4 linked regions of the Homo sapiens genome follow. The protein of the gene in region 1 purifies or fractionates together with the protein of each later gene. This does not show direct contact. Each region holds a gene or a part of one and is shown in the gene's direction. Other genes may lie near its edges.

Region 1 (7,480 bases):
TCTGGTGAACACTTGTCTTGTCTTTTGCCTTCTTGGTCTACTCTGTTGGTGTCAGCTCTTCCTCATTTTATCCCAGGTGTTCATGTCTCTCCCTTCAACCTCCCATTATCACGCATATGCAACCATTCCGAAAGGTGGTGCCGACAGAGACTGCTCTTCCAAGCTGCAGACCTGTGTAGACACCCTTGCATCCCCTGGGATATCTTGCAGACATCTCATACCTCAAGACCCGAAATGATTACCAAACACTTAGTCGTTCAACCTAGAAAGCAGAGTATTGGCCTTGACTCCTCTCTCCCTTTCACCTCGAGGTTCAATCACCTAGACCTCTCCATTCCACTTCCTAAAGCTGTCTCAAATCTGTCGACCCCTCCCACAGGGTGGCTCCCACAGCTGCCACTCCCATCCTATTTCAGGCCACCATCATTGCTCAACTTCTGCAAAGACCTCCTAAAGCTGGTCTTCCTGCTTCCACTCTCGCCCCCTACAGCCCATTCTTCACATGGCAGCCAAAATTATCTCAGAAATAAATCTGATTATTTCTGTACTGAAAATTTACCATGTCTTACCATGGCCCTACAAGGCTTGGCCCCCGCATTCCTTCTCTTATCTTCTCTCACCCTGCTCTTCCTAACCACTTACAACGATCCAACCAAGTGATCTCTTCTGTTCCTCAAACATGCCTACCTGCGGGGTCTTGGCACCTGTTCTCTCTGCCTAGAATGGCTATTCCTCCAACTCTACACATACCTGATTTTTTTTTTTCATTCTTTAAGCCTCAACTCACATGTCCTCTCACAGAGAAGCCTTTCCCAACCACCTGCTCTAGAGAGGCCTCCTCCATCTTCTTGTTTATGTATTTGTTTATTATCTATCTCCCCAAGTAGAAGACACCTTATCTGCTTGTTCATTACAGTAATCTCAGCACCTGAAACTGCCTGATATACATTTGACAATCAAGAAAGATTTGCTGAGTGGGTGAATAGGTCTGGCCCACAAGGCCCTTGGGGATCTGCTGCCCCCGTTAGCCCTCCCCCGACTCTAGCCACACTGACCATTCATGTCTCGAACATAACATGCTCTCTCCTAGGGCCTATACACATGGTGTTCTCTCTGCCTAGTTAATTCTGGTCTCCACTTAAAAGACCACTTCCTTCCCTGAACTCCTGAGAAAAAAGGTCTCCACACTATACGTTTCTTCAGCAGCCTGAATGCCTTCACACTCAGGCCTTATTTCCTTCACATCAGGCCTTGCTAGGCTGTAAGCTGCGCTAGGACAAGGTTTGTGTGTCTCTCTTGCTTGTTGCTGTAACCCCAGGGCCTCACCCAGAGTCAGGACCAGCTCAGGCCTTAGTGTTTATGAACTGGTGCTAACTGTGGAGACTGGGCACGTGCCCAAAGAGGTCACCACCACAGAGCAGCCCAGGCCAAGCACAGAATGAATAGTACAGTCTAGTTGTAAAGAAGTTTGGTATGAGGATGGCCATGGGTGGGGATATGAGGAAGGATTTAGGTAAACAGGGAGAAGCCAGGAGGATTTTCTGGCCATGGCGCAAATTCCTTAGGGCAGAATGTACTGGGCATATTTAGGTAAGAAACAGATCAGCATCACTGGAGTGAAGAATTCCTGAAAAGGAGGCGGGAGATAAGAGAAAACAAAGGTTGAGGCGATGTTGTTGAAGTTCCTGAAGACCTAGCTTACTTCTCTGTGCCAGACCTGAGTTCAACCACCTTTTGGGTCTCCATCAGCTGATCCCACAGTAACCTCAATATATCCCAGACTGAAGTCATCCTGTGTCCTCCCATGTCCTCCCCTGAGTTCCCCATCCTAGTAAAGGTGTTTTCAAGACCTCCCTCTCCTTTCCTCCACACACCTCAATCAGTAACAAAAACCTACTGCTTTTGCCAGGCCCAGTGGTTTATGCCTGTAATCCCAGCATTTGGGAGGCTGAGGCAGGCGGATCTCCTGAGGTCAGAAGTTCGAGACCAGCCTGGCCAACATGGTGCAACCCTGTCTGTACTAAAAATACAAAACTAAAATTAGCCGAGCGTGGTGGCGTGCGCCAGTAATCCCAGCTATTCAGGAGGCTGAGGCATGAGAATCACTTGAACCCGGGACGCAGAAGTTGCCGTGAGCTGAGATTGCACCTGAGTGACAGAGCAAAATGCTGTCTAAAAAAACAAAACAAAACAAAACAAAAAACCTACTGCTTCTAAATTATTCTCCAGACCATACTCCAGCATGATCCACTAAAAATATAAGTCTGGTGAATGATTCCCCTTGAGGACTCCTCACAGCTTACAGGCTAAAGCCCACAAACTTTTCAACACCTACTTTGCTTTGTCCTGTATTATCCAGCCTGCTCACCTCCTGCTGCTCTGCCACCCACTCCTCTGTTCCAGCTTGATCCATGCTTCTGAAGCTTCCAGTTGGGGATGTCCAATGCCTTCTTGGCCTACCTTCACCTGGTTCATCTCCCTCTATAAGAAGTTTTTCTTTTTCTTCTTTTTTGTTTTGTTTTGAGACGGAGTCTCGCTCAGTTGCCCAGGCTGGAGTGCAGTGGCGCAATCTCAGCTCACTGCAACCTCCGCCTCCCGGGTTCAAGCGATTCTCCTGCCCAAGCCTCCCGAGTAGCTGGATTACTACTATTGCCTAAGCCTCCCGAGTAGCTCCTGGGATTACAGGAGCCCGCCACCACGCCCAGCTAATTTTTGCATTTTTGCAGGCTGGTCTCGAACTCCTGGCCTCCCAAAGTGCTGGGATTACAGGCCTGGGCCACCGCACCCTGCCCAAGAAGCCTTTCTTGACCAACTCTCTTACATCATTTGATGTCTCCTTTTGTCTACCTCTGTTTTCTCTCTGTTGTTTTCCTCACACTGTTTTGCAATTATTATCCTACCTATCTATCCACAAGACAGTGAACTTCTTGAAGAAGCACAACTGTCTTATATCATCTTTTATCCCAGCACCTGGAGCACCGTGAGAATAACAGCTAAGATTTACCAAGCACTTACACAGAGCTAAGAGTTTCACATGCACTGACTTGTTAATCACTACAGCAACGCAAGGAGATAGGACTATCATTATGCCCACTGACAACAGAGGAAACTGAGGCACAGGAAACTCATTTGCTAGGCCCAACGATTTAAATTCAAATCAGACGCCTGATCTGAACTACTCTGGAATATCGCCTCAATAAATGTTTGCTGTTTCTCGGGAGAAATCGGTGAGAAAAAAATAAGTATTTGCTGAAAACTAAAAACCAAAGATGGCTCCAAGTATGTGATTACAGACTATCCTCCTTTTTAATCTTATCTCTTGAGGGGAGAGGGCTGTCACACAACCGTTCCAGGACACCACACACAGAGTAACCGAGATGAAAGCGCCAATCCAGCCATCCACCGCGGCTGGGAAAAGGCCTGTCCCTTCCTAAGGTAAAGAGGGACTGAGAGCGTGAGCACAGGGACACGCTGCACCCAGGGGAACAGCACTGGGTCGGGGGAAGGATCTGGCCAGTGACAAGGAGGCTGTCTGGAGGGGTGGGGGTCCAGCGTGGGTTCCGGAAGCAGGAAAGGCGAGCAGGTGTGGGATCTAAATTAGGACGAGGGGCGGGGAGGGCGCTCCGCGCAGAAGGGCGCAGCTCGGCCTCCGACCTCAGCAGCGGACCCTCATCTCGGCCGCTTGTTGGTCCGCAAGCCTGGAGTGGGCTGAGACCCGCCCAGAAACCGGGAGAACTGAGGCGCGGGCGAGCCCCTTAGGCTCCACAGGCTTTCCGCCCCGAGGTCCTAACTGCGCCCCACTTCAAGTCTGGCCTCTTCACAGAAGTGGCTGCACGCCTCGGGGTAAAGGGGGGAGCGGAGGGTGGCGGGGGAGAGAGCGGGGAGCCCCGAGGGAAGGGCGGGGGAGCCTGGGCCGGAAGGCGTCCCAGGCTCGGCTGGCAGCCGGCGCTCTCTTTCGACGCCACCCGCTGCCCCCGCCCCCGAGCCGGCCGGGACGGCAAAACGTCTCCGCCCCCAGCGCACCGCGCACCTCACCTTGAACGCCGCCCCACCCACCCCCATCTTATTGGTCCTCCCGGGCCGAGGCCTCCCTGCGATTGGTCGGGGAGGTCCGCGAAGGCCCCGCCCATCTCTCCGCCCCCGTCCCCGTCCGCCGGTACTTTGGACGGCGGCGTGGCGCCCCTCCTCCCCTCCCGGTCCCCGCCCCCTGGAGCAAATGCTGCCGAGCTGCGGCCGCGGGGCAGATGCACGCGCTCGGGCCCTTCTAGCAGGCGCGAGCAGTCGCTGGGCGCGCGAAAGCGAAAGAAGGAAGAGGAAGGGAGGGGGAGGGCGGGGTGTTGGGGAGGGGCGGGAGGAGGAAGAGGAGGAGGTTGGAGCGCGCTCGCGCTTGGCCTCGCGCCCGCGCAGAGGGAGGGGGAGAGGGGCGCGCGCGCGCACGCTCGCGTTCACGCTCGCTCCATCCATCCATCCTCCGGTCGCGGCACACGCGCGCGCGCTCCGGGCTCGCGCCGCACCCCCCGCCCGGGAGAGGCGGGCTGGAGTGGGGGGCGGGGGGAGGGGCGCGCGGACGGCGCGCGGACTGCGCGCGGGCGGGGTGAGGTGAGGAGGAGGAGGCGGCGACGGGACAAGAAGGGAGGGGAAGGGGCCATGGCCGCCCGGTGAGGCGGCCAGGCGGGGGGGCGGCCCGACCCCCCGGCCCCGGGCCCTGGGCCCCGGGGAGAGGCGAGGACGGACCGACGGACATGGGGCTCCGGAGCAGCCGCCGCCGTCGCCGCCGCCGGAGGACGCGGCCCTGAGAGGCTGCCGGGCCCCGGCGCGGCCCCCCGGGCGGGGTGAGTACGGGACGGAGACGGGGACGGGGACGGGGGAGGGGCCTGTGGGGGGCGGGGGGCGGGGCCCAAGGCGGGGCTTGGGCCCCCTCCCCCCAGGTCTGGGTCAGCGCCCCTTCCCCTCCCCCCGGGCCGACGCGGAAACGCCCGGCTTCCCCCAGCTTCCCGGCCGGGCCGGGGCCCCTGGCTCTCCCCCGTCTGGGTCCCCCTTGGGCGGGGCAGGGCCGGCCGGGGAGGGGGCGCGGGGCCTTTGTTAGGGAGCCAGGCCCCAGCCCCCGGGACAATAGAGACACCCTCCCGGACTCCTCTCCCCGGCCGGCCGGGGCTGCTGGCGGGCGGGGAAGGAGAGGGGCTGGGACGCGTCCCACTCTCTGGGGGTCGGTCTGTCCCGGCCCGGCGCCGGCCCCGGCGGCTCGGCTGTCCTCCCCCCAGTCGGTATGATGCAGCAGCAGTGCCGCAGGGACGGGGGAAGAGCCGAGGCCCGGCCTCCTACCCTTCCCAGTGCCCCCGGCTCATTCGTCAGTCCCCACCCCACTCTAGGCCGGCAGCTCCTGAAACTCGTACCCACCGTTCCGAGGGGCCCTGGGTTGTGGGTTCTGTGTCTGAATCCTTGGGTGGGGGTTCCTGGACTTTGGGGCTCTTGGAGAGACTTCCGGGCTGGTCCTGAGGGAGGGCGGGTGGTTATTTAAAGGAAGAACAGGTAAGGGGAGTGCCCGCTCCTGGCGTGCCACCCTACCAGGCTCTTCCCCCCCACCCCCCGCCGTTCCTGCTCATGGTGGCTAGAAATGTCCCTTAGCTCTAGGCTCCTGTGGGCTCTGCTCCCCTCGTGGAGTGGCAGGCTGATTTCAAGGGAAGACAGAGTGGGGTGAAGGTTGTAGGGTCCTAGGGCCATTTCTACTTCTGGTAGCAGTACCCCCCCAAGTGGACATCCTGGCTGAAAGCAGAGGTGACTCTGAGGAGAGTCTTTAGGGAAGGCGGGGGGTGTATTTAGGAGTCTGTGCAGTTCTTTGCCACACCCTGTGGGTTTGCTTTGAGGCCTTGGAGTTCCTTCTCCTCCCCCTGCTGCATTGCACCATGGGTATCAAAGAGGGGTTTGAGTTTTGGGGACCTAGGGTGAGCTGCTGCCTCCTATAGACCCAGACTCTGATTGGCAGTGGAGTCCAGGGCCTGAGCTCAGGCCTGGGAAAGACTAGGCCCCCTTTAGGTTTCAGGCCTTGAAGGACCATCCAGACTTAGGGAGCCTGGGCCTTGGGGAGGGAGAGACCCTGATGCCAGGACTGAGCTTTGGGCAGCGAGGTGGGGAGGGAAGGTGGCCGCATTCAGAGGTGCCTTGGACTCACAACAACACCCCCACCCCCGTGTGTGCAGCCGTGTTGCCGCCCGCTGTGCTATGAGCAGTCAGAGCGCCGTCTCCACAAGAGTTTACAAATGAAAATGGAGGAAATGTCTTTGTCTGGCCTGGATAACAGCAAACTAGAGGTGAGGGCTCCCCCACGTGTGCCTCCAGTTCTTTCTCTTGATGTCTCTACGTCGCTGTATCTGGCATCCACACCAAAGAGGAATTTGGGTAGTCAGCCTTGTTCCTTAAAGGGAATAGCCAGCTGAAAAAGCCAAGGATCCAGGAAGAAGAAAGAACACGAAGTCAAGATGGGGAAAATGGCAAAGAAAGCATGATTTTTGGCTGGGGCCAGTTGGCAGCAGATTTGGTTGGTGAGAGTCCAGGGGGCTGTGACTCTTGTGACCGTAGATGTTCTCCCCTGGGGCCCAGGCCATCGCTCAGGAGATATACGCGGACCTGGTCGAGGATTCTTGTTTGGGATTCTGCTTTGAGGTACACCGGGCTGTCAAGTGTGGCTACTTCTTCTTGGACGACACGGACCCTGATAGCATGAAGGATTTTGGTGAGCTTCAGGGTGAAGGAGCAGCAGTCCAGCCCTTCCCTGGGACTGCCTGGAGTTTCCTTCTCTGGAAACTGTGCTAGATGTAGCACCTGGAGCTCCTGTGAGCCGGGGGAGGGATTGAAGAGGCCGTGGGACCCCAGGTGGGAACAAGAGGAGAGGGTCCTGCCCACCCTGATCGCCAGCCTCTCCTGTCCCCAGAGATCGTGGACCAGCCGGGCTTGGACATCTTTGGACAGGTTTTCAACCAGTGGAAGAGCAAGGAGTGTGTTTGCCCCAATTGCAGTCGCAGCATTGCCGCCTCCCGCTTTGCTCCCCATCTGGAGAAGTGCCTGGGAATGGGTCGGAACAGCAGCCGAATCGCCAACCGCCGGTGAGGGAACCAGAGCTGCCCGTTCTCTGCAGCCTGTGCCATGGTGTAGTCCCCCGGGGGCATTGGGAAGGTACAGAGGGTGGGTTTTACTTGGCCCCAGATGCTCCACCTGCTTCTGAAGTTGGGGGCAGAGCGGGGTGACCACCTTGACCCCTTTCTCTTCCTTCCCCTTGGCCCCTTTCTCTTCCCTCCCCTTGGCAGGATTGCCAATAGCAACAATATGAATAAGTCTGAGAGTGACCAAGAAGATAATGATGACATCAATGACAACGACTGGTCCTATGGCTCGGAGAAGAAAGGTGCTTGGGGATCTGGGGAAACCCGGGGGGCATTGGGATGAGGTGGGAAGCAGGAATTGGGTATACAGTGGTCACAAATTG
Region 2 (2,747 bases), on another chromosome or scaffold:
CCAGTAAATGAGGAACCGTAACTCTTTGGAACAAACCAAAATATAGCAGATGTAATTGTACAGTTCCTGATTAAACTTCAGTTGCAAAAAAGAAAGTTATTTCTTTAATTCTGTGGGAGTTTTGTATAATTTTACTTTTATGGTTTTTACACATACTTGAAACACTCTTTCTAAAGAATTAATAAAAACAGAAATGAGAAACATGAAAGATCTTTTTCTTGATACTGCTCCTTTTTCTTGATACTGCTCAAGAGAGCAAGCCTCTCTTGATACTGCTTCCTAGATTTAAGGGTAAAGAAAGTAGAAATAGTTCTCCCTTCACCCAAATTTGGAAGTATAAAACTTTCTGAACATGCCATTTAGAGGTTATGTCATTAGCTTTCCTGCCTTCTTATATTGTAATAGTTGCGATTCAAAAACACTGTTTCAATTTTAAATTCAAGACTTTTTATTTGAAAACCATCAGACTCAAAGAATTATGAGGCTCAGTTAATATTATTATGCCACATTATTTACATTTGTTAACTGTCATTTACCTGCTCTATGTTAATCTTTTTAGAAAAAATTTGCATTTCAGAAACAAAAAGCACGGATAGATATATAATATCAAAATATTCCCAAAGGATTTTGATGTTCCATCTATGCTTGTTAAAATGTATGATTATGATTAAACTTTTTATCATTCTTATTTTCCTTGGCATCCATAATCATGGAAAATTACAAGCTTGCAGTAAACATCCTAACTTAACTTAACTTTTAAACGATAGCATTTATTGTATTTGGTTTTGATCTGCCAGGCTTATAGATGGTATAAAATTTTCAGGGGATAATTTTTCACATCAAAATTCCTTCTCTCCCACATTATACATTTTAAAGTATGCACAAGGCAGAAAATATAGGGTTTGGGTTTTTTTCCTTCGTTTTATTCCACCTGATCTCCTTATAGTCCCAGAGAAGGAAGACTCAATGTACATTTCTCTCAGAAATATGACAGGTCTGTGTTTTTGTTGGTCTGGCATATGTTTGTCTATCTTGAACAGTCTGACAGGTAATTATTTATAAAATCTGGTTTTGCCCAGTAAGTTCATATAAAACCTTTCATTTTTCATCATAAGCCAGTAAGCTGAATTTAGAATAAAGCAAGGTCATTTATGTCTGTCCTGAACCAGCCTACATGTCCCCATAATTGCTCAATATTTTTAATTCCCTTTTCTATTTTTTATACTTAGGTTCTTTCTCTGACTCTTTGCACAATACTAAATTTGAAGTGAAATAAAACTTCCTTCAGCAGTGACTATAGAAACAAAAGAAAATTTACAGAAGGAATGTTTAAGAAAACTTCAGTAAATTATTTTCTCAATAATCATAATGTTAGAGCAGAAGATAGTCTTAGAGATCATTAAGAACAGCTGCTCATCTTGCAAATGAAAAAACCATGGCCTAGAGAGGGAAAGTGAGTTTCCTAAGATCACTCAATAATGTAGTGACAGACCAGAGATGAGAATCGATGGTCCCTAATTTTCAGTCGGTATTATACAGTATTTTCTACCATACTGGGTTAGCATAAGAATATTACTAAGACATGTTGGGGTTTTATGGCATATTTATCCTAGACAACGATGTAAATTTATTTAAAAACTGTACTAATTATGGATACATCCTAAAGCATACGTGTTATATAGTAAAATCTTCAGTGTGACTGTGGTATTAAGTAAACAGTCTGTTATCTTACACATCAGGCTTAACTCTAAGTCAAATGGAAATATACAAAGCTAGTTTCTATTTTTTGTCCCTTGTATTTTAGAGACTGAATTTGAAAATAAATAAGCCAATAAATAAATAGCGTCTCTTGATACTGCTTCCTAGATTTAAGGGTAAAGAAAGTAGAAATATTTCTCCCTTCACCTAAATTTGGAAGTATAACTTTCTGAACGTGCCATTTAGAGGGTTATGCCATTAGCTTTCCTGCCTTCTTAGATTGTAATCGTTGTGATTCAAAAATACTGTTTCAATTTTAAAACCAAGACTTTTTATTTGAAAACCATCAGAAGCACAAATATTTTTTAAATGGTGTATATAATTCCTGTATCTGGGGAGAACCCTTCATTTATTGCTGTTCTTTGTTTTTATAAAATAATAAACAAGCCATGTCTGATGCTTTTACCATGTAGAAGACAAATAAACATAACTGGTGATTCTTGGTCTGAAAGAAAACATGTTTACTTGTTTAGAATTAATTATAAAGTTTAATTTTATGAATTTTTTTACGTAGTTCTCAAATCAGGCAATGCTTTCCAGTTCATATAACCTCTTGTGTAAAACTGAATCACTAAAGAGAACATATTCTCTCATCTGCCCCCCTGGAATTTGGATAGAACCTTTCCAGGCTACATTTAAAATTCTACCATCAACCATGTATACATCTCATAAAATATTTTACAGTTTCCTGTATGCTCTGGCCGAACATTTCATAGTACATAAACACTCTGCAAATAATCTAAGGGCATCAAGTTGAATATGTCATAGCAGTGGCCACTACAAAGAGCTAATTCTCCAGCAACACAGTTTCTTATTTTTACCTTCTTATTTGAAACTCAAGATGAAACTTTACATGCTATTGTTGTACAGTGGCAGGGGTGAGAAGAGAGCAGGGAACTCTAGCAGTTTTTGTGGAATTGTGTTCATTAAAGCAAAGGCTTTCTGCAGAGGGCATCTAGCCAAGCTTAAACAACAAAACTTTGCCTGCA
Region 3 (6,497 bases), on another chromosome or scaffold:
AAAGCGCTTGGCCCTTCATGGAACCTGTGAAGAGAACAGAAGCTCCAGGATATTATGAAGTTATAAGGTTCCCCATGGGTAATACCATTAACATTTTCTAAGTATAGATTTAAAACTCTGGATGGCGGTGTGGGGGACAAATGGTTGCTGAGGTTGATTTGTACTCCTCTGCTTAGGGTAGGAAGTGTATGACGGGTGGTGGGATTCCATGCACCGTGGCGGGTCAGTGATGGCAGAGAAGTGGGTGGCTGTGTTCATTAGAGACATTCTGCAGCTGTCGTTTAGAGCCCACATGAGCTTAACGACACTAGACGCAGAAAATCCACGGTAACTGCAGACAGCACTAGATTTGAAAGCTGGCACTTTAGATATAACTTTGCTTATATTCTAACTCTTTGGTGCAAATAGAAAAACATCAGCTTATCCTCTTGATATGCTTTGCGTCTGTCGTAAATAGGTATTCCTTTGAATAATTATTCAGGATAATAATGAAAGAAGTTAGATTAAAGTACTTGACTGCTGTACTTTCAGAGGGAGAAATTCTACTTACCACAATTCTTGATTTTCCATGCCCTTGATGGGTACTGTTAATGTCACTGTATATACTCTTTATTTTACGCTTTGTCTCATATCCAAAATCAAACAAAAAAGGATGTCTTCAGAAATGTAGAATTGTGCAGTTTGGTGCTGTGCCCACACCACTCTAAAATTAATGATTAATTGAATCATTTGAGGTCGCTCAAATTAAACTAATTTGGCATTGTGTGGGTGACAACCAGTTGAAATGTTTTCTTTTTATCAGCTATGTGGCCATATTTTTGGAGAGAGCCAGAGTCTTCTGTCTCTTTTCTACCTGTAATCTATTCCAGGTGCTAAGAACTGTGAAAGTCCAGCTTGGGTAATGTAGTGAGACCCTGTCTCTACAAAAAGTAAAAAATTAGCCAGGTGCAGTGGCACACGCCTGAGGCCCCAGCTACTTGGGAGGCTGAGGTTGGAGGATCACTTGAGCCTGGGAGTTTGAGGCTGTAGTGAGCTGTGATTGCACCACTGCACTTCAGCCTGGGCACTGGAGGGAGACCGTATCTCAAAAAAAAAAAAAAAAAAAAAAAAATTGTGGAAGTGTTAAAAATGTGAAAAGGAAGAGTGAAAGGGACGCATTAGCTCCTTGAAAACTGAGTTATTTACAGGTGTTTTCTATAGCATTTAAATGTTTCACATGAATATTTTATATATTTGTAGTAATGATTTCAGTAGCCTACACCCTTTAAAGTGAACACACATCTATATGCTTTTCTTTCTCTCTTCTCTCTGACTTACCACTATTTATTTCAGTACAAGAAAATAAAGGGTATGGTTGACTCAGTCTAGAATTCTGAATGGAAGGCTGATTTGGGAATCAATATTGTCCACTATGTGCAAAATATGTTAAAACTCTTTGTGTCCATTTCCAACCATAAATTAACTGATTTTTGCATCCTCTTCCTCTGGACCATCTCAGCTTCTTTTGGGAAACCCCCATGGGAAGCTGTGTGACTTTGGGGCCCTTTCAGCCCCTGTGCACATGCACTCTGATGACGTGCAGCGATAGGTCTAGCAGATCTCGTCGATCATAGCCTACTTGCAGCCTGCTTTCTGAAAGTGTTTTGCTTGGTCCCACCCGTGAAGGTTGTGAACTTCTCCAGTTGGATACCACCTGTATGCATAGCTGAGTCTCACAAGGGGGGAAACTGACCTAATTGAGCAAGGCCAGTGATGGGCTGAAATGTGTGCTGGACAAAGTTAAAGCTATAAATGGTGTTCTTCAGTAGGGCAGTATTTTTTTTCTTGGTATTGTTCAGATGCTGAGTAAAATATTTAGTCTTGTCCCCAAGATTATCTTGTATTTGAAGACAAGATTGACAAATCAGTAATTTTACATTTTCCCACGATTTCCTTATTTGATTTTTCTAATAACATTACTTTTCTTTCCCCATATTCTGAAAAACTGTTTCTCTCATATGGATGGGATCTAACCTGTTTTACTTAGGGAGTCACACACTGGACATCAGCTGTATAGTCTGGCCCAAGCATGACTTCTTGTTACCCATGGATGGCTAGGCAGGGTTTTGCTGCTTACCCAGAATTCCCAAGTTAAGGGGAAAGGACATGAAAACTGAATAATTTAATGGTGTCTCTATATTTGGTACCACCAATATTTAGTCACCTTTTTTAACCCACCTCATTTTGTCAATTGAAAAAACTCTACGAAGGCCAGAGGAAGAAGAATGCTATCTATAGCTTTAGAATAGAAAGGAAGTATTCAGAATTGGTTATAGTTATTCAGAAAAGTCCAGACACCGCCATAATTCTTGCTTTGTTTCTGCTGCATTTTAGGCTCTCTCCATCTTTTCTTACCCATCTCCTAAAAAAGTTCGAAAAGCTTTTGGACAAACTTCTTTGTGTCGTGTCATCCTTTTACTCCCCCTCCCCCTTTTTGGGGGGTACATGTTTCTTCCTTTTAAAACATTATACATATTATATTGGGCAGCATATCTTAAGTGGTAGACATTTAGGTGGAAAAGTGAAAGGAATGTAAACATCTACTTTTACTTAGGGCCAATTTCATTGTTTTTTTCTTCTTTAAATGAGAGAACATTTTGATCTGTTCAGTCACACTTGGATGGGACATTTAGTGTGAGATTTGATGAGTCTTTGTGTTTCTTAGCGCTTTTAGATTTTTATCTCTCTCCAAACTGTTTTAGAGAAGAAAGAAAAGTTGAAAGTTGAATTTACAGATGTGATGACATACACTCTAACCAAGATAGGCTTTATTCAAGAGATAGGCAGAAGCAGCTTTTTTCCATTTCTTCTTTGATGCTTTTGTGGTGGATTTAGGATATTGATGCAAATGAATTCCTTCCCATTTGGGGATATTGTACGTACATTTACTTACCTTATTAAATGATGATCCCAATGTATTTGGTTATAGGTTTCTTTCCCCCTGGAAATTTTATAACATACTTATAATTTGGGATATTGGTAGTCAGAAGTGGGGTTTTTTTTTTCCCATTTGACTTATTTTTCCACACATAGTTAATACAATTATAGCTTTTAACAATAAAGCCAGACTTCAAGACAACCAGGGAACCATAAATAGACAAATGTTAGCGTCTATTCTAATCTGCATAGAATTCCTTAAATTAGTCCTGACAGTGAGGATTGAAGAAACCCTACTTTAGTTTTATCAGTTTAGATGGAGTACTGTTTTCACCTGTAAAATACTACAATTTAAAGCAAGTAGCTATATTGGGAAATATTCTTTGCAATAGTCTCACAAGGCTTACTTGCTTTAGAAAATAGATTATTAAATGAAGTTTGTTATTCTTATTTCATTGATGGAGCTTGAAGCAAATTCATTTGAATCATTTTACATGCAAGGGCACTGGTGTGTTCACAGATGTATTTATTATCAGTTTCTCTATATGACACCAAAACAACTGTGAGTTTAGTGAAACAAATGCAGTCTGATTGTTTTAAGTAATTAAATGATTGAATACAAACGTTCCACCTGCTCTACTCCATATAGATAGAGCCTCTTCTGTATAATTCTGACTGAATAGCTAACAGTAGTCAGTTCATCATACTTATTGTTGCTAATCTACTTAGCTTCCTTGTGCTGAATAGGGGATTGAACCAGATGACTAATAATGGTCCCTTTAATGCTAAAATGGCTGTGATTTTACATTTTTAAAAAACCCACAAAAGAATGAACTTAAGATTTAAGAACTGTTTTCCTTGGTCATAAGAATTTCTCTTAAATAAAAGCATTGGGATGATAAAAATGTAATCAAACCAACAACATAGATTCCTTTCCCAGTCCCAGTTTTGTCAGCTGGTGTTTAAAGGGAGTCAAAGATTGCTAATATTTTTTTTTCCTGTGCAGATCTGAAAACCATGAGTGAACGCCTCAAGAATAGGTACTACGTGTCTAAGAAATTATTCATGGCAGACTTACAGCGAGTCTTTACCAATTGCAAAGAGTACAACCCCCCTGAGAGTGAATACTACAAATGTGCCAATATCCTGGAGAAATTCTTCTTCAGTAAAATTAAGGAAGCTGGATTAATTGACAAGTGATTTTTTTTCCCCTCTGCTTCTTAGAAACTCACCAAGCAGTGTGCCTAAAGCAAGGTGGTTTAGTTTTTTACAAAGAATTGGACATGATGTATTGAAGAGACTTGTAAATGTAATAATTAGCACTTTTGAAAAAACAAAAAACCTCCTTTTAGCTTTTCAGATATGTATTTAAATTGAAGTCATAGGACATTTTTATTTTATGGAATAGATTTTAATCTATTTACTACTATTAAGGTAAATTTTCTATGGCATGTCCATTAGCTATTTCATGATAGATGATTAGGGGTTTCCTCAAAACCTGTGTGTGAGGAAATTGCACACAGTAGCAAAATTTGGGGAAATCCATAACATTTTCAGACCATGAATGAATGTTTCCATTTTTTTCTAATGGAATGTGAGAGTTTACTTTTATTTTATTCTGAAGGACTTTAAGGAAGGGATACATGATTTTAAAAAAGCCTGTAAGAGGTGAAATATGTGATGTTTGAAGTCTCTTTATAGACTTTTTATATATATTTTTTAAAACACTCATCTAGATGAGGTGCTTTGAGCAGTTCTGAAAAATGCAGTTCCAGGAAAGCAACTGCTTTGGTTCCTAAGGAAGAAATTCTAAATAATGCAAACTTTTAAAATAAGCATCTAGGTTTTTGATAATTCTGTCTACTTACAACAAACTTGTTAGTACATAACCACTATTTTAATAATTATTTTCTCTACACAAATGTGTAATATCATATTTGACTTTGCTTATGCAGGCCATAAGTTCCAAAAGATAATTTCCCTGCCCACAAAGGCATAAACTTGAAAACACATGAGATTGAATCAACATGCTTTAATAGGAAAAGATGTATGGTCTATATATGTATCAATCTGGTGAATCCTCGTTCTAATAAAGGTTCTTTTTCTTTTCTATGATACACACAGCCACGCTGATAATATGCAAATGAACATTTTCCTTTATGTCTCTCCAGATAATGTTTATTGTCTGAGGTAAATTAAATTCCCACCAGGGTTTGCTGTCAGTATTTTAACACCCACATTAGTATATGCGTCCAGGGTCATAACCCCCTAAAATCCATCATGCAACCTTATTAATCTGTCTTGGGATTCCAGTTTAGTGCTTGGATTTATTTCCTGATTACACTACATAGAAAAGTGAGACATCTGCCATTCCCAACTCTGGGAAAACCAACTAATATACAACCATATAAATGAAGGCCATCTTGATGGTCTCAACACTAATTTTTATGATGCAAATTTATACACTGATTTTTGTAAAGGACAAAGTTTTAAAAGCGTATTTAACTTGATGTTTTCTATCAGCATAAATAAAATGGTCATGAATAGTCATTAAAAACAGTTGCCAGTGATAATCTGCATGAAGGAAAAAGAACCCTGCAAATGGCTATTGAGTTGGAAGTATTGTTTTTGATATGTAAGAGATATTCAGAATGCTCACACTGAAAATGCCTCAACTTTTTAAAGTGTAAGAAACCACCATGAGTGGTGTCTAGATTTCTAATGAAGAATCATGATACAGTTTGGATTAAGTATCTTGGACTGGTTTTAAACAGTGCTTTGTACCGGATCTGCTGAAGCATCTGTCCAGCTGGTATCCTGTGAAAGTTTGTTATTTTCTGAGTAGACATTCTTATAGAGTATTGTCTTTAAAATCAGATTGTCTCTTCTATATTGAAAGCATTTTTATGTTTTCTAATTTAAAAATTAATATTTTCTTATAGATATTGTGCAATAAAGCTGAAGTAGAATGTGTGGTTTTTGCAAATGCTTTAACAGCTGATAAAAATTTTACATTTGTAAAATTAATATATTGTACTGGTACAAAATAGTTTTAAATTATATTTTAAAAAGCTTCCAATCTTGTGGTGTGTTTTATTCATTCAGTAGGCTGAGGTTAACAGAACAAATTATGATCTGGTTGATAACCATCAATTGAATCCTTAAACCTTAGATCTTAAGCATTCTGTTGCATTTGGGGGAGGTTTCATAAAAAATCCATAGGTCATCAGTAAGAGATTTTCAGGAGAGACACTTACTCTGTCTTTTGAGTTATCCACTGCATCTTACCCACTCACCCGCTAAACAATAACAAAAAAGATTCATTGAAAGAAGAGTGTTGTTGGTTTAGAAATTAAAAGATTTTTGTTTTTATACTTTGCATCTGTGAAATATATATGATGAGAGAAAAATACAGCCGATTTTTAAACATCTCCCATATGAGCTTCTAATGTGATTCAAAATGATGTCTGTAGGAAAGAATACTATATCCTTTTGGGGTTTGAGAGGACCCAACCAAGAGAACCCCTCTTCCCTACTGAAATCTAAACCAACTGAGAAGTTAAAAAAAAAAAAAAAAGGCA
Region 4 (7,774 bases), on another chromosome or scaffold:
CAAAGGATAGTGGTCAGGAATGGGGCTGGATCTGCCACATTCTGGGGAACAGAGATGACCTCAACCTTCAGCACCAGAGCAGTTCCAGGGAGCACCAACTGGCCAAAGTCACAGGTGAATCAGTCAAGAGTTTTAAGACAGCTTTCCCTTGAGATAACACACTCCCGTGCTGGCTGTTCTGACCCAGTCAGAATGCAAATGTTTGTGTAGTTATATTTATTAATAGAGTCCACGGTTAGCCAGGCCTGGCACATGGCTAGGGCTCTGTATTGAAACCAATAAGTAAAAGCCTGGAATTTCTATTTTCGTTCCCACTCCTGTTGCTACTGGGGGCCTTTTATCCAGTCCTGTTTTTAATCCAGCAGCCTGCAAGGGGCAGGAAAGAGGCAGGTAAAGTTGTCTAGCAAGGCAGAGTAGAAGGCACACCTGCCCTCCAGATGCCGAGAGCTTTTATAAAAGGTAACAATGTAGGTAACAAATTTCCCCCAAATTATAATTCTCAGGGAGAAAGGGTTAGGGAAATAAATTTAGAGAGAAGAGTGGCAGATGGGACAGATGGATTCAATTAAGGCAAAGAACATCAAATAATTCCAGGGATGCCTCATTCTAATGGAACATGTCATTTTCTCCTCATTGCCTCCAGGTAACTCCCAACAGTCTAGGTAGGAAGTAGGGTGCTCACACCGTGCCTCAACCACGGCAGGAGTTTAATATCCTCAAATGAGAGAGCTAACATTCCCTCTTCTCTTCTTTTCAGTAATGTGGTGAAACAGCACATGAATCAGACTAAGTGAATGCAGGATACATAATAGATGCACATTTCTACAGAACCAGGTGTTATTCAAGTTAAATAGGTATTTTCCATTGTCATTAAAACAGAACAGATTTCTTTATTTGGTCTATGGGAGACTCTCCCTTTTAATTAAACCAACCACACTGTCATTTTCCTAAGAAAGATAATAAAACAATAAAAATATTTACATCCTTTTTTCTTCCTAAACATTAATCATGAGGGGAAGAGGGTGTTTTGCCTTTGCTAGATAGTTTTATCACATAGACATTATACTAATATGCTTTAAATTACTGTTTTACAGGTCACTTTATCCTTATTAAGGATGTATTAGATTCTTGTTGCCTCTAACAGCATTTGTAATTATTTACTACCAAAAGGAATTCAATTCTGTAATAAATCGATCACCATATATAGTTGATATATGAGTATTGATATGTATATAATACATACACAGCATGTAAACCTGAACACTACTTCCAACTGACCTCAATTTTCATCCAAAGTCAAGTGTAAATGTCTAGTAGTTTGATGAGCGATGCTTTCTTTATTCTCTGCCTCTCAGTTATGCAATTTGATTGACAGTCATGTTATCCAACACAGTCATAGATGGGTTATAGTTTCAACAAGTCAGTATTATTATGTCTATAGTCAATGGAGAGACTGGAGAAGGCTTAGAGTAAAGCAACTCTACAATTATACTCCATAACTAACTGCAACAATGTAGACATACTCTGTTATCAATTAAATGTGGCAATGCCTGTGAAGTCTTCTTTTGTAGAGATGCTAAATCACTTTTAGATTCTAGCCCACAATTTACCGTACTGTGGAGTAAAATCATCCCAAATAGAAGGAAATAATATTTGGGCTGTCAGACTCTCTTCAAGGTCCTGTGTAGTAACCTCCACTTGACAGACTCTGCTGGGAAAGTAAGCTCATGTTAAAATATGGAACCACTGATTTGCTTCACTATAACTGAGGTGTCCTGACTTCTGATGATAAGCCACCTTTGATTTTTTTGAGTGGTTTACAGTAGCTCCCAGAAGAGGAGACAGCATTCTGGAAGCTCAAGTCACTGACTCCCAGCAAGTGGCCCACTCACATGGCTACTAGCAGGATTAAGCTCCTCACTGGCTGTTGTATTGAGGGCCTCAGTTCCCCACTGGCTGATGACCAGAGGCCTCCCTCAGTTACCTGCCACACAGTCCTCTCCATAAGGCAGCTTACAACATGGAAGTGGGCTTCCCTTAGAGCAAGACAGGGCATGCAAGAGAGAGTGAGAGCAACAGAAGTGACAGCAGTTTTGTACCCTAACCTCAGAAATGACATCCCACCACTTTTGCTATATTCTCTTTGTTATCAGCAAGTGACTAAGTCTAGCCCACACTAAAGAAAAGAGGATTACACAAGGGCATGAACACCAGGAGGTACAGACCTTTGGGGCCACATTAGCTGCTGCCTACACCTTCCTTGCATGCACAACAACACAGGAATAAACATCAAAATAGATAATAAATAGAGGGAAAATAGGGAAGCAGAAGGGAAAGGGAAAGTGTTCCAGCATCTAATTACTCATGCCTCAGAGCTCTCGCATTCTCTCTCCCCACCTCTAAATCTAGCCCAACAGCACACCCTCTGATCAGGTGCTCTCTTCACAGTCTCACACCTGTCTCCTCTTCTCTACCTGCATAGCACCACCAAAGTTCAGGCTTTCATCTCTTCACACCATGAATATTGCAGCACTACTTTTCTAACCAGGCTCCGTACTCCAATCTTTCTAACTCACACTTTTAACTTATCTTTATGGTACAGAAAGCCCTTCAGTAGCTCCCCATTGTCAAACAAAATCCAGACTCTTTAGGCTGCCGTTTGGTGCCTTCCATAATTTGATCCAGGCCTGGGTATCAAAATGCATCACCCCCAAGCCCCCAGTAACAATTCTCCATCCCAGGCAAACCATGCTCAACACCCAAACACACCATGTTTATACTCAGCTTGAAGCCTCTGCTAATACCATTATTCCCCCTCCCTCCGCAAGACCAGTCTTCACCTTACCATTACAAATCTTTGGCAATTTCCAAGATGCAGAGCAGAGCCCATCTTCTGTTACGCAGTTTCTGTTCACTCCTAACTAGATTTCGGTTCCTCTATGAACTGGCACAGCTGAGAGACCACCCCACCCACTGCACAGGCCAGTCCCTGTGTACCTGCCTGTTTTCCCAAGGAATCGGTAAGTTTCACAACTTCCTTCTTCCAGAGACCACCAGACTGCATCTCTGTGAGGGTGAGGATGGGTCTCACTCATCTTTCCCTCCTGACAGGAGGGCACAGCTGTTCCATGACAGGCAATATTGGTTGACTTAAGATGGACAGATGGAAGGAAGGAAGGAAGGAAGGAAATGTCAAGCCCAGGGTCTAGCATATAACAAGAGGTCAACAAGTAATACATATTTGTTAACACCACCAATTCTTACAATGGGAATTCTTCACCCAGCGACACCTTAGCTATGTAGGAGCCCTTCGAAAGAGAGCAAAGGCAAATGCAGTTTATCTGAGTCTGACACAAACAAGCCGACTCACACAAACATCACAACTAAAGGCAAATCCGCAGCTCCTCCTTCATCGCCCATCCTAACACTGGCTTAGCGATACAGGGTGCCAAGCTCAGGGAAATTATTAGATGGTTCAGCCAGGGCAGAACTCAGTCAGTACAAAGCAACTTCCAATCAGTGCGCTTCAGCTGTGACAACTTGGGAAACAGCAGTGGTGAGAGCTAAAAGGGTGCTGGCGAAAGAGAAAAAAAAATATGTCGCTTGTGGGGTGAGGGCGGTGTCCATATAGTTTAGATAATTCTAGTAAACAAAAGGATTTGTTAAAAAGAAGTAACAGAAGACTTTTTAAAGCCTTCTTTAAAGGGTGAAAATCTCAACTAAAGCACCCAACGTCCAAAATCCAGAGGAAATCTAGCGCTCCCTTTCTAGCTGGCTAGAGCAGTTAAGCCTGAAGTGAATTCTCCCAGGAATCAGATTCCTGGCCAAAGGTTGCCTGCGCAAACCCGGGCCACCCTCGTCTCACGGCAGGGAGCGCTGGAAACGGCTCAGGGGCTAGGCCCGTTAGCGTCGTCTTCCAAGAGCCGTAAATTCGCCCTCCCGCTCTGCTGACCCTGGAGCAAAGTCCATGCAGTGGTTCTCTGAGAGCCGGAGATACGCACCGCGCGGGGAACCCGGGGGTCCGGGGGCCCTAACTTTTGAGTTTTGCACGCCCCGCAGCCTGAGATGGGAAGGTAGCTCGTAGCGCTCCAAACTCACCTGCGTTTCAGAACGACATCTACCCACTGGTTTCAGCTCCTAGAGCAACAACTGCAGAATCTCCATGGTCCAAAGTCCTCCAGGAAAGAGAAGAAAGGGGTGACGGGGGTGAGGGCTGGGAGGCGAGGTCACCAGGGTCCCTTCCCTGGCTCGGGTGGGGGTGGGGGGCGCAACCCCTCACGGCTCCTCCCCACCAAGCCGTCGGGACCCCAGCGGGGGCGCCTCGCGTTGGGCGACAGGGACGCGGGGAGAGAGCGACAAGCTGGAAGCAAGGGCTGCCTGCAAAACTTTCGGTCCTCCAGCGGCAACTCTGCGGGAAAGACCACCCTTCCTTCGGCCCCGCGTCGGGCCTATCCCCGTGTGCCCCGACCCCTGCGCCCCAGGCTTGGGCGGCGCCGCTGCATCCCGGCTGCCGGGCGCGCTGCAGCCTTCGCTCTCCCGCACGCGGCGCTCGCCCGTCCGCGCTGCCCCTCCCCGGCAGGCGGGCGGCCCCGGCGGGCGGGCGGGCGCGGACTGCAGGTGCCTCTCTGCTGCCCCTGGCGGCCGCGGGCGCGCGAGCCCCACCGAGCCGGCTCCGGGAGCCCGAGCGCCCGCCCCTCCTCCGCTCCCTCTCCCCTCCTCCTCCGCCGCCCTCCTCCCATCCCGCCCTTCCTCCCTCCCTCCCCCTTTCAGAACACTCAATGTCGGAACGTTCCGAAGATGACGTCGGAGCGTTCTCGAATCCCGTGTCTCTCGGCTGCTGCTGCCGAAGGAACAGGGAAAAAGCAACAAGAAGGAAGAGCAATGGCGACACTGGATCGCAAAGTGCCCAGTCCGGAGGCGTTTCTGGGCAAACCCTGGTCCTCCTGGATCGACGCCGCCAAATTACACTGCTCCGACAGTAAGAACCCCACCACCTCCTCCTCCTTTTATTATCCTGTAACCTTTCCATTCACCTAGAGCCACTGGGAAAAAGTGTGTGTGTGAGAGAGAGAGTGGCCCCCGGTGTCCTCCATGCTTCTCCCTCTCTCTCTAAATAAATACACACAGAGACAGATCATCAATGCACAGGGAGAGGCCCGGCTGCCAGGGCTGTCTGTCTGTCTGTGCCCGGCTCCCCGTGGCAGCCCGCGGGGTGGGCTCGCAGCCCCACGGTGTTGTCCGTTTAAAAGGCTACTTTGTTGCTGCTTGCATAGTTTTTTGGGTACCTATCTGGGCCAGGTAGATGGAAACCCAGACTTGGGAGAAAATGTTGCATTGTCAATTTTTGAAAGAATTTCATATACAGTATTTATATCGATCTGTTTGCAAATAAACACTCTCCCTCCCCCCTTGACTTTGGCTTTTTTCCCCCCTTTTTTCCTTATTTTCTGTTTTCCTTTTCTTTTTCATCTGCAGATGTAGATTTAGAAGAGGCTGGAAAAGAGGGTGGAAAAAGCAGGGAGGTTATGAGGCTTAATAAAGAAGGTAAGTGGAGCTACTGGCATTTTAGTGTTAGCATGTGTGGCAGAATCTTCACAGGATTTCGAATATAATGTGAATTGTTCTGCTGGGTACAGAGTGACTAAGGCTTGTCAAAAATTGAGCACGCCCAGGTGACTACTGCTTCATGTTAACTTCTTTCAAAGTATAAATACAACTGGGGGGGGGGTAAAGGGGGGTGAGACTGTTGAAGGCAGAAGTTTACTGCACTTCAGTTGGACTCCACGTTTGAACCTTCTGATGCATATCTGCCATTCTCCTTGGGAGCATCATTGCCAAATGGTGGGGCGTTAAAATTTCTGAAATGAAGAGTGGAGTTCCCTTCACAAGCATCCCAGCCTTTCTCGTGGGTGAATGCACAACAGCTTAATGAACCCCACATGGTCAGTCATTCCAGCAGCTACTTCTCCACTCACCACTGAAAACCATTGTACATGGCAAACCTTTGCAGCAAGTTACATTTGGCCCACTTTGCATTTGGTCACAGATTGTTATGTGGCAAGCAGGGTTAGGAGCATCTGTATGTGCAGCCCCTCAGCAGTCATCATCTCTCTTTTCCCAGCATGGAAATACGGTACCTGAAATGGGACACACTGAGTAGATAGGTCATCCCAGACCAAGATATGCAAGAGAAGCCACAACCTGCTGCAATTGGGCATCAAACACATATGGTCGTCATAAATAAATCATATCCTGTTCTCATTTGCAAGCCTGCCGTATGTAACTCTGGCCTATGGGCTTCAAATGGAGCAACTCCGGGGGCCACTTGCTGCTAAGCAAATAGGTGGATTCATTTGAATTGTGATTCACTAACTGATGTCTTATAAACATAATTGGCTGAAATTGGGGGTGGGAAGATGGCACAAGGGGACAGAAGAGGTTGGTGGTATTGAAAGAGTTCAGACATAAGTAGGCCATAGGTGCATTGGTCATCCCAAATGAATGGAGAAAAGGCCATTAGATGCCAAAGAATGGTCCCCCTCATAAAAAGGGATGTCACCCTGGAAGGCAGCTGAAGCCTGCGTGGAAAGATGGAACTCATTTTATGAATCAACACTTCAGATGGTTGGTTTTCTGTGCCCAATCATTTCCTGACCATCCACTGAGAGGAAATTTTGTGCTTCAGAAAAAATAACATGAAGGTTAAAATGCGTACATATTCAAGGACAGTTCCCTAGCATAATGTTTCTGCTAATTAAGCACTTTGGGAACAAAACATTATTCTAAAGATGTTTGCTTCTAAATATCTTAGTGTGATCTTGACAGGTGTCTTCAGGATGCACGAGGGATTGATGTCAAGTGGACTTCTTACAAGTGGCAGCTTATTTGTGTTAAATGTTCATGTGTGTTGGCAGTGGGAAGCATCACTAGAGATTATTTTTCTTCACACACAAACTCTTGAGATCTCTAAGTGCTTGCAAGACCCAGTTATCAGGCTACTGGCAACGTGTCCATAAAAGATGATGAGGCTGTGGAAATCTTTAAATTAAAGTTGAGTAAAGGTCATGGTATAGCACAGGATTGTCACCTCTCAGGTCTGGGTGATGCGTTATGACTATCACACACAAAACTCACATCCTTTCCCCCCAGTCCCTGTTTCTATTTCAGAAGACTGTTGTTCTCAGATTCTCTTTGCCTCATGAGAAACAGATTTTTTTTTTTTTTTTTTTTTTGATACGGATTCTCACTCTGTCGCCAGGCTGGAGTACAGTGGTACGATCTTGGCTCACTGCAACCTCCGCCTCCCGGGTTCAAGCGATTCTCCTGCCTCAGCCTCCTGCATAGCTGGAACTACAGGCACGTGCCACCACACCCAGTTAATTTTTGTATTTTTAGTAGAGACGGGGTTTCACCATGTTGGCCAGGATGGTCTTGATCTCTTGACCTCGTGATCTGCCCACTTGGCCTCCCGAAGTGCTGGAATTACAGGCATGAGCCACCGTGCCTGGCTGAGAAACGGATTCTTTTAAGAAAAAATGAAAAGCTCTCCTTTCCTCAGAAGTCACAGGTGGTACATCCCGCTTATTAGGTCCTTTGTCCTATAAAGGTACGAAGATTTAGCTCCTAATTATACATATTTGCATTAAGGACACCCACTGTTCAGTGTAACTTGAAATTGCTAACTTCACCAAAATAGCCATATATGGGCTGAAATCTCTTTGTTCACAGGCCTGGTGGAACAGACTTGGGTGAGCAATTCCTGATGGTCTTTCTG

What was found.
Region 2: the proteins of ATXN7L3 (region 1) and SUPT3H purify together in Homo sapiens (affinity purification with mass spectrometry; 8 studies listed by BioGRID and IntAct, with this or other methods). This does not show direct contact.
Region 3: the proteins of ATXN7L3 (region 1) and KAT2B purify together in Homo sapiens (affinity purification with mass spectrometry; 7 studies listed by BioGRID and IntAct, with this or other methods). This does not show direct contact.
Region 4: the proteins of ATXN7L3 (region 1) and ATXN7L1 purify together in Homo sapiens (affinity purification with mass spectrometry; 7 studies listed by BioGRID and IntAct, with this or other methods). This does not show direct contact.

Annotation. Positions count from the first base shown.
Region 1 is NC_000017.11:44,196,848-44,204,327, reverse strand, and holds the start of ATXN7L3 (ataxin-7-like protein 3), read left to right. Parts: upstream 1-4,443; 5' UTR 4,444-4,832; intron 4,833-4,958; exon of another isoform or gene 4,959-5,775; intron 5,776-6,197; 5' UTR 6,198-6,257; coding exon 6,258-6,308; intron 6,309-6,576; coding exon of another isoform or gene 6,577-6,597; coding exon 6,598-6,730; intron 6,731-6,928; coding exon 6,929-7,100; intron 7,101-7,301; coding exon 7,302-7,399; intron 7,400-7,480. UniProt on the Homo sapiens protein: Component of the transcription regulatory histone acetylation (HAT) complex SAGA, a multiprotein complex that activates transcription by remodeling chromatin and mediating histone acetylation and deubiquitination.
Region 2 is NC_000006.12:44,826,193-44,828,939, reverse strand, and holds the end of SUPT3H (transcription initiation protein SPT3 homolog), read left to right. Parts: 3' UTR 1-2,214; downstream 2,215-2,747.
Region 3 is NC_000003.12:20,148,410-20,154,906, forward strand, and holds the end of KAT2B (histone acetyltransferase KAT2B), read left to right. Parts: coding exon 1-78; intron 79-3,922; coding exon 3,923-4,116; 3' UTR 4,117-5,995; downstream 5,996-6,497. UniProt on the Homo sapiens protein: Functions as a histone acetyltransferase (HAT) to promote transcriptional activation. Has significant histone acetyltransferase activity with core histones (H3 and H4), and also with nucleosome core particles.
Region 4 is NC_000007.14:105,873,582-105,881,355, reverse strand, and holds the start of ATXN7L1 (ataxin-7-like protein 1), read left to right. Parts: upstream 1-4,756; 5' UTR 4,757-4,797; coding exon 4,798-4,978; intron 4,979-5,475; coding exon 5,476-5,544; intron 5,545-7,774.